Linked DNA regions of Homo sapiens. The protein of the gene in region 1 interacts with the protein of each later gene in a biochemical or structural test. Each region holds a gene or a part of one and is shown in the gene's direction. Other genes may lie near its edges. The genes, in order: RBL1 and CREG1.

The links.
Region 2: the proteins of RBL1 (region 1) and CREG1 form a complex in vitro, tested with the Homo sapiens proteins (one study listed by BioGRID).

What each region holds. Positions count from the first base shown.
Region 1 is NC_000020.11:37,029,757-37,033,579, reverse strand, and holds part of RBL1 (retinoblastoma-like protein 1), read left to right. Parts: intron 1-703; coding exon 704-915; intron 916-3,823. UniProt on the Homo sapiens protein: Key regulator of entry into cell division. Directly involved in heterochromatin formation by maintaining overall chromatin structure and, in particular, that of constitutive heterochromatin by stabilizing histone methylation.
Region 2 is NC_000001.11:167,547,249-167,551,071, reverse strand, and holds part of CREG1 (protein CREG1 precursor), read left to right. Parts: intron 1-2,950; coding exon 2,951-3,070; intron 3,071-3,823.

The sequences.
Region 1 (3,823 bases):
ATTTTGGGAGGCCAAGGCAGGCAGATGGCTTGAGCTGACGAGTTCGAGACTAACCTGGGCAACATGGCAAAACTCCCATCTCTAAAAAAAAAATACAAGCCGGGCACAGTAGCTCACTCCTGTAATCCCAGCACTTTGGGAGGCCGAGGAGGGCAGATCATGAGGTCAGGAGATCGAGACCATCCTGGCTAACATGGTGAAACCCTGTGTCTACTAAAAATATTTTAAAAATTAGCCGGGTGTGGTAGCATGTGCCTGTAGTTCCAGCTACTCAGGAGGCTAAGGCAGGAGAATTGAACCCGGGAGGCAGAGGTTGCAGTGAGCCGAGATCACGCCACTGCACTCCAGCCTGGGCGACAGAGCAAGACTCCATCTCAAAAAAAAAAAAAAAAAATTTACCAGGCATAGTGGCTTGCACCTGTAGTCTCAGCTATTTGCGGGGGTTGAAATGGGAGGATCACTTGAGCCCAGGAGGTCGAGGCCACAGTGAGCTGAGATGGCGCCACTGCACTCCAGCCTGAGTGACCAAGTGAGACCCTGTCTCAAAAAAAAAAAAAAAAAGAATTCAGTCATAACCTAGAATTACTATTTTGTAGCCTTCTTATACACACAGATATATGTATATATAATTGTCAAAATATATATAGTTGACAACTTTCCTAGAACATATGCAGATTATTTCTAATAATGCTTATACATTCAGGTGTCGCAAATGATGCTGGAGAGATCACACTGATACCTCTTTCCATGAATACAAATCAGGAGTCCAAAGTCAAGAGTCCTGTATCACTTACTGCTCATTCATTAATTGGTGCTTCTCCAAAACAGACCAATCTGACTAAAGCACAAGAGGTACATTCAACTGGAATAAACAGGCCAAAGAGAACTGGGTCCTTAGCACTATTTTACAGAAAGGTATGTGTTTTTATAGCACTTTAGAAGAATTTGTTTAATCAATGGAAGAAAGATTGAGTAACAGAGACAGACTTTGGTCTTTTTTTTTTCTAATATACATAACACAAAATTTACCATTTTAACCATTTTTAAGTGTACAGTTCAATGGTATTAAATACATTCACATTGTTGTGCAGCTTTATTACTACCGTCTATCTCCAGAACTTTTTCGTCTTCCCATTCTGAAATTCTGTATCCATTTCTCCCTTTCCCCAGCTTCTGGCAACTACTATTCTACTTTCTGTTTCTGTGAATTTGACTACTCTAGGTTCTTCCTATGAGTGAAGTCATACGATATTTGTTTGTTTTTGTGACTGGCTTAGCGTAATGTCTTCTAGGTTCATTCATATTATAGCTTGTGCCAGAATTTCCTTCCTTTTCAAGGCTGAATAATATTCCATTGTATGAAGAAGAGAAAAAAAGAACAAAAGAAAAAATATTCCATCATATGAATATACTTTTTTTTAATACCACATTTTGTTTATTCATTCATCTGCTGATGGGCATTTGGGTTGCTTCTACCTTTTGGCTATTGTGAGTTATGCTGCTATGAACATTTGTGTACAGGTGTCTGTTCAAACCAGGCGTGGTTGCTCATGCCTGTAAACCCAGCACTTTATGAGGCCGAGGCAGGAGGATCACTTGAACCCAGGGGTTTGAGACCACCCTGGGCGACACAGTGAGACCCTATCTCTATTTTAAAAAAAAAAAAAAAAAAAAGCAGCCAGGTATGGTGGCAGATGCCTATAGTCTTGGCTATTTTGGAGGCTGAGGTGGGAGGATCACATGAGCCCAGGAGGTTGAGGCTACAGTGAGTCGAGATCACACCACTGCGCTCCAGCCTGGGCAACAGAACGAGGCCCTGTCTTAAGAAGAAAAAAAAATAGCAACAAATATCTATTCAAGTCTCTGCTTTCAATTCCTTTGGGTATATTCCCAGAAATGGGAGAGTAATTTAGTATTTCATTTTCTGAGGAACCACCGTACCATTTTCCACAGTGGGTGGACCATTTTACATTACCACTAGCAAGGCACAAGTGTTCCAAGTTCTTCTCATCGTTGCCAACGTTTCGTGTTTTCTGGTTTGTTTGTTTTTTTGATAATGGCCATCCAATGGGTATAAAGAGACATCTTACTATAGTTTCAATTTTCATTTCCCTAATGATTAGTAATATTGAGTATCTTTTCATGTGCTTTTGCCCATCTATATATCTTCATTATAGAAATGTCTATTCGAGTCTTTTGCCCATTTTTTTAATTATGAGTTTTGGGTTTTGTTTTTGTTAAATTGTAGGAGTTCTTTATGTATTCTAGATATTAATCTCCTATAAAATATACTATTTACAAGTATTTTCTCCCATTCTGTGGGTTGCCTTTTCATTCCGTTGATAGTGTTCTTGACACATGAAAGTTTTTAATCTTAATAAAGTCAATTTATTCTTTTCATTTTTTGTCTGTGCTTTTGGTGTCATACACAAGAAATCATTGCCAAATCCAGTATTATAAAACTTTTCCCCTATGTTTTCGTCTAAGAGTTTTATAGTTTTTAGCTCTTATATTTATTATGTCTATTTTTTTTTGAGACAGAGTCTCACTTTATCACCCAGGCTGGAGTGCAGTCACGCAGTCACAGCTCACTGCAGCCTCCGCCTCCCAGGTTCAGATGATCCTCCCACCTCGACCCTCTGAGCAGCTAGGACTACAGGCATGTGCCACCATGCCCAGCTAATTTTCGTTTTTTGGGTTTTTTGTTTTTGTTTTTTTTTTTTTTGAGACAGAGTCTCACTCTGTTGCCCAGGCTGGAGTGCAGTAGCGCAATCTCGGCTCACTGCAACCCCTGCCTCCCGGGTTCAAGCAATTCTCCTTTCTCAGCCTCCTGAGTAGCTGGGACTACAGGAATATGCCACCACGCCTGGCTAATTTTTGTATTTTTAGTAGAGACGAGGTTTCACCGTGCTGGTTTGGCTGGTTTCAAACTACTGACCTCAGGTGATCCACCCACCTTGGCCTCCCAAAGTGCTGGGATTACAGGTGTGAGCCACCACGCCGGGCCTGTTTTTGAACTTTTTTGTAGAGACGGGGTTTCACCATGTTGCCCAGGCTGGTCTCAACTCGTGAGCTTAAGTGATCTGCCCACCTCAGCCTCCCAAAGTGCTGGGATTACAGCCGTGAGCCACCACGCCCAGCCCATTTTAATTTTTGTATATGGTGTTAGATAAGGGTCTAAAGTCATTCTTTTGCACATGGATATCCATTTTTCCCAGCACGATTTGTTGAAAGACTGCCCTTTCCCATTGAATGAGCTTAGAATCCTTGTTGAAAAGTCACTTGAGCATAGATATGGGGGTTTAATTCTGGGCTCTCTATTCTATTCATTGGACTATATGTCTATCTGTATTCAGTACCACACTGTTTTGATAACCATAGCTTTGTGTCATAAGTTTTAAAATCAGGAGGTGTGAGACCTCCAACTTTGTTTTTCTTTCTTAAGATTGTTTTAGCTATTTAAGATTTCTTGAGAGTCTGTATGAGTTTTAGGATGGATTTTTCTCTTTCTGCAAAAACATTGTGGAATTTTGACAGAGATTGCATTGAATATGGAGATCGCATTGGCTAGTGTTGACATCTTAAGAATGTCAAGTCTTCCAGTCCATGATCATAGGATGTCTTTTCATTTGCGTCTTCTTTAATTTCTTTCAGCAACATTTTGTAGTTTTCTGTATATGTCTTTTGCAAGACAAGTCCTTGCTTAAGATTATTCCTAAGTATTCTTTTTGATGCTATTGTAAGTAATAAGTAAGTAGAATTGTCTTAATTTCATTTTTTAGATTGTTCATTAATGTAAAGGAACACAAGAGATGTTGTTGTA
Region 2 (3,823 bases), on another chromosome or scaffold:
ACCGTGTTTGGCTGCAGAGCCAGTGAGTCTGAAGGGAAATCTTGGGGTTTGATTATTTGCACCAAGACCTCTTACTATTAGCCTCCCTTCCATTTTGGCATTCTTTTCTTGTGATGTGCCCCTTTCTGTTCTGGTCACTCTTGGTTTTTTTTCTCTGACCCACTAAAATAAGTATCCCTCAAAGTCAGTTTCCTACTCTTTTGTTCCCTGCAGCGATCCTCAGAAGATTGTATACACTCTCGTTGTATACATTCTCTTCTAGTCCTTACTAGGACTCACTTCCAGATGTGTGTCCATTTCTGACCTCTTCAAAGTTCTCTATATTTCTGCTTGCTGTTCATTTTTGCTTCGTTACTTTGCCACCACTTCAAATTCAACATGTTTAAATCCAGTCCTTCTTCCTCCTGAAACAAGCTGCTTTTGATCTTCTGCATTTCTGTTAGTGGAATTATTGTTTTCTCAGTAAACCCAGTTGGTTCTCACTGCCTCCCCAAATCCCTCAGTTCCCAAGTCCTGACAGTTTTTTGTTGCCTTCTTTACCTCTGTCCTTGCCCCTTCCTCTTCATTCCTGCCACCTCATCCTTAAGCTTATCATCTCATGCCTAAAAGTACTAGAACAGCTCTTACATAGTCTTCCTGTCTGCCCCATCCACCTTGCCTACCCAAATAGATTAACAAAAATACCTGTCACAGCATTGCCCTCTGGCCAGAAACCTTTAACAATACCCAGCTGCCTATAGCTGCGTAAGAGCTACCTGGGATGTTTGTTTAAAATGCATATAGAGGCGGGTGCGGAGGCTCCAGCCTGTAATCCCAGCACTTTGGGAGGTCGAGGTGAGCGGATCACCTGAGGTCAGGAGTTTGAGACCAGCCTGGCCAATATGGTGAAACCCACCTCTACTAAAAATACAAAAATTAACTGGGTATGGTGGTGTACGACCGTAGTCCCAGCTATTTGGGAGGCTGAGTTGAGAGCATCAGTTGAGCCTGGGAGGCAGAGGTTGCAGTGAGCTGAGATCACGCCATTGCACTCCAGCCTGGGTGACAGAGCTTGATTCTGTTTCTAAATAATAAAATGCAGATAGAGGACAGCTTGGTGGCTCATGCCTGTAATCCCAACACTTTGGAAGGCCGAGGTGGGAGGATCACTTGAGTCTAGGATTTTGAGACCAGCCAGGGCAACACAGTGAAACTCCATGTCTACAAAAAATAAAAAAATATTAGCCGGGTGTGGTGATGCACATCTATAGTTCCAGCTACTCAGGAGGATGAGATGGGAGGATCACATGAGCCCTGGAGGTTGAGGCCACAATGAGCCATGATTGTGCCACTGCACTGGGTGGCTGCCTGGGTGACAGAGTGAGACACTGTCTTAAAAAAAATATTGCAGGCCAGGTGCGGTGTCTCACGCCTGTAATCCCAGCACTTTGGGAGGCCGAGGTGGGTGGATCACAAGGTCAGGAGTTCAAGACCAGCTTGGCCAACATGATGAAACCCAGTCTCTACTAAAAATACAAAAATCAGCTGGGCGTGGTGGCACACACCAGTAATCCCAGCTACTCGGGAGGCTGAGGCAAGAGAATCGCTTGAACTTGGGAGTTGGAGGTTGCAGTGAGCTGAGATCGCACCACTGCACTCCAGCCTGGGTGACAGAGCAAGACTCCGTCTCAAAAAAAAAAAACAAAAAAAAATTGCAGTTATTTGGGTTGGGAGTGAAGCCTGTTTCAACATTTTAACCCAAATCAGCATTTTATCAAGCTCTCCAGGCAGGTGGTTCTTAGAAAACAGTGCCTAAGGTTGGCCCACAAATTACAATCTAGACTCCTTAACTTAGGTTGGAGCCCTCTCCACTCCCAACCCCAGGCTCCTCCCGTAGGAAAGCCCTTCTTTCCAGCAAATCAGGTTTCTTGGTACTGTTCATCAAGTCTTAGGCTCACCCAGTTCTGTGTTTTTTGCAGTCAGTGTCTCCTCTCCCTTTAATATGTCCTCCCACCTTCTATCCTGGTTTTGAATATATTATAAAGCTCCTTACAGTTCCTCTATCACTCTGGTCTATGCTGGACATACACATTTGTTTATGTCTGCCTTTTCAACCAGATTATAAACTCACGGAGGGAGAGAGTTTACCTGAGTGTCCCCCTCCCCTTCTTTGGTCTCCTGTGGTGCCTTGCCTAATAGTTTCTAGACAGTGACTATTTGGCTAAATGATTTCAAAGAAATCTCTTTATGACTCTTTGTTTTGATGGGTCAGTGTGAAATGGCAAAATTCTCCACACAAGGCACTTAGAGCTTAAAGAGCTAAATAGTCTAAAATGCGATGTGTGAATTTTGCTATAATCTGTCAACAGTGCCTTTTATGAAGTTGATTTCTGAATAAGAAAGCATTAAGAATTTTACTTGTGTTACTTTTTGAATGTGGGATAAAACTCATTGTTACTAAAGCAGGAATGAACAACTTCTCCAGTTTTGAAATCACATGACAGTTTCTGCTAATGTAAGATAACCAAGTAGCATGATTCAGCTACTTTCTTGCTTAAATCGCGTAGTTAGCCAATTGAGCAACTGTGGTGTTTTTAGCAATGGTTTTGTATAGAGTTTAACCCTTTAAATCTTTCAGTGAAGCCTATAGAACAGCCTTGAATTTGGGTGTCACTATAATTATAATTCTTCTGATGAATATGGAATAAATTCAGGGTTTCAGAAAAAGAATATTGAAATAATTTTTACCAAGTCAGTTCATTTTAAATATGAACCCCCGCACCCCCTTTGGGGAGTGGTCAGGATACTTTCCAAGTATTATTTTCCCCTGAGTGGAAGGTGATGTTTTATGATTCATTGTTTCGTGGAAGACCAGTCAAGCTCTAGGGACATCATGTATGCAACTTTTGAAATTTATTACCTCTCCAGAAACCATATTTCACATGAGAGGATCTTCATTTTCTCTCTATAGGAGAATCCATATGCTACACTGACCATGACTTTGGCACAGACCAACTTCTGCAAGAAACATGGATTTGATCCACAAAGTCCCCTTTGTGTTCACATAATGCTGTCAGGAACTGTGACCAAGGTAAGTAGTTATCCTACAGGAAGGGAGATGGTTTCAGAACACCATCGTATTCACAATGAAAGAATAGATCATTTTTCTTTTGAGACAGAGTCTCACTCTGTCTCCCAGGCTGGAGTGCAGTGGTGTGATCTCGGCTTACTGCAACCTCTGCCTCCTGGGTTCAAGCGAGTCTTGTGCCTCAGCCTCCCTAGTAGCTGGGATTACAGGCACGCACCACCACACCCAGCTAATTTTTGTATTTTTAGTAGAGATGGGGTTTCACCATGTTGGCCAGGCTGGTCTTGAACTCCTGACCTCAAGTGATCCACCCACCTCGACCTCCCAAAGTGCTGAGATTACAGGCGTGAGCCACTATGCCTGGCAGAATAGATCTTTTCAGAATGAAATGCAGTTGATTTGTGATTGCCATGCCCAGTCAGAACATGTTCTATTCTAATAGGTGAAGTAATTCCATGAAAACCAAACGTTTTAATAAGTTGCTTTCATATAGGTGTTAAATAAGATATGACAAAAATGAATGATTTTCTGAAGCCAAGCAGATGTAACAACTATGAAGCTCCTGTATATAAAGTTATTCTTACTAAAGAGCATCTGGTTGACCAAAGCCCTCTACTCTCCATTACATTTTACATTGGTATAATGTTTTTCCATGTCTGGGCTCCTTGTCTCCATATTTTAACAGTGGCTTAAAGCAGAGAAAACATATTAAGTAGGCCAACCAGAGGACTATCCATTACTGAAAACTGGAAGTGA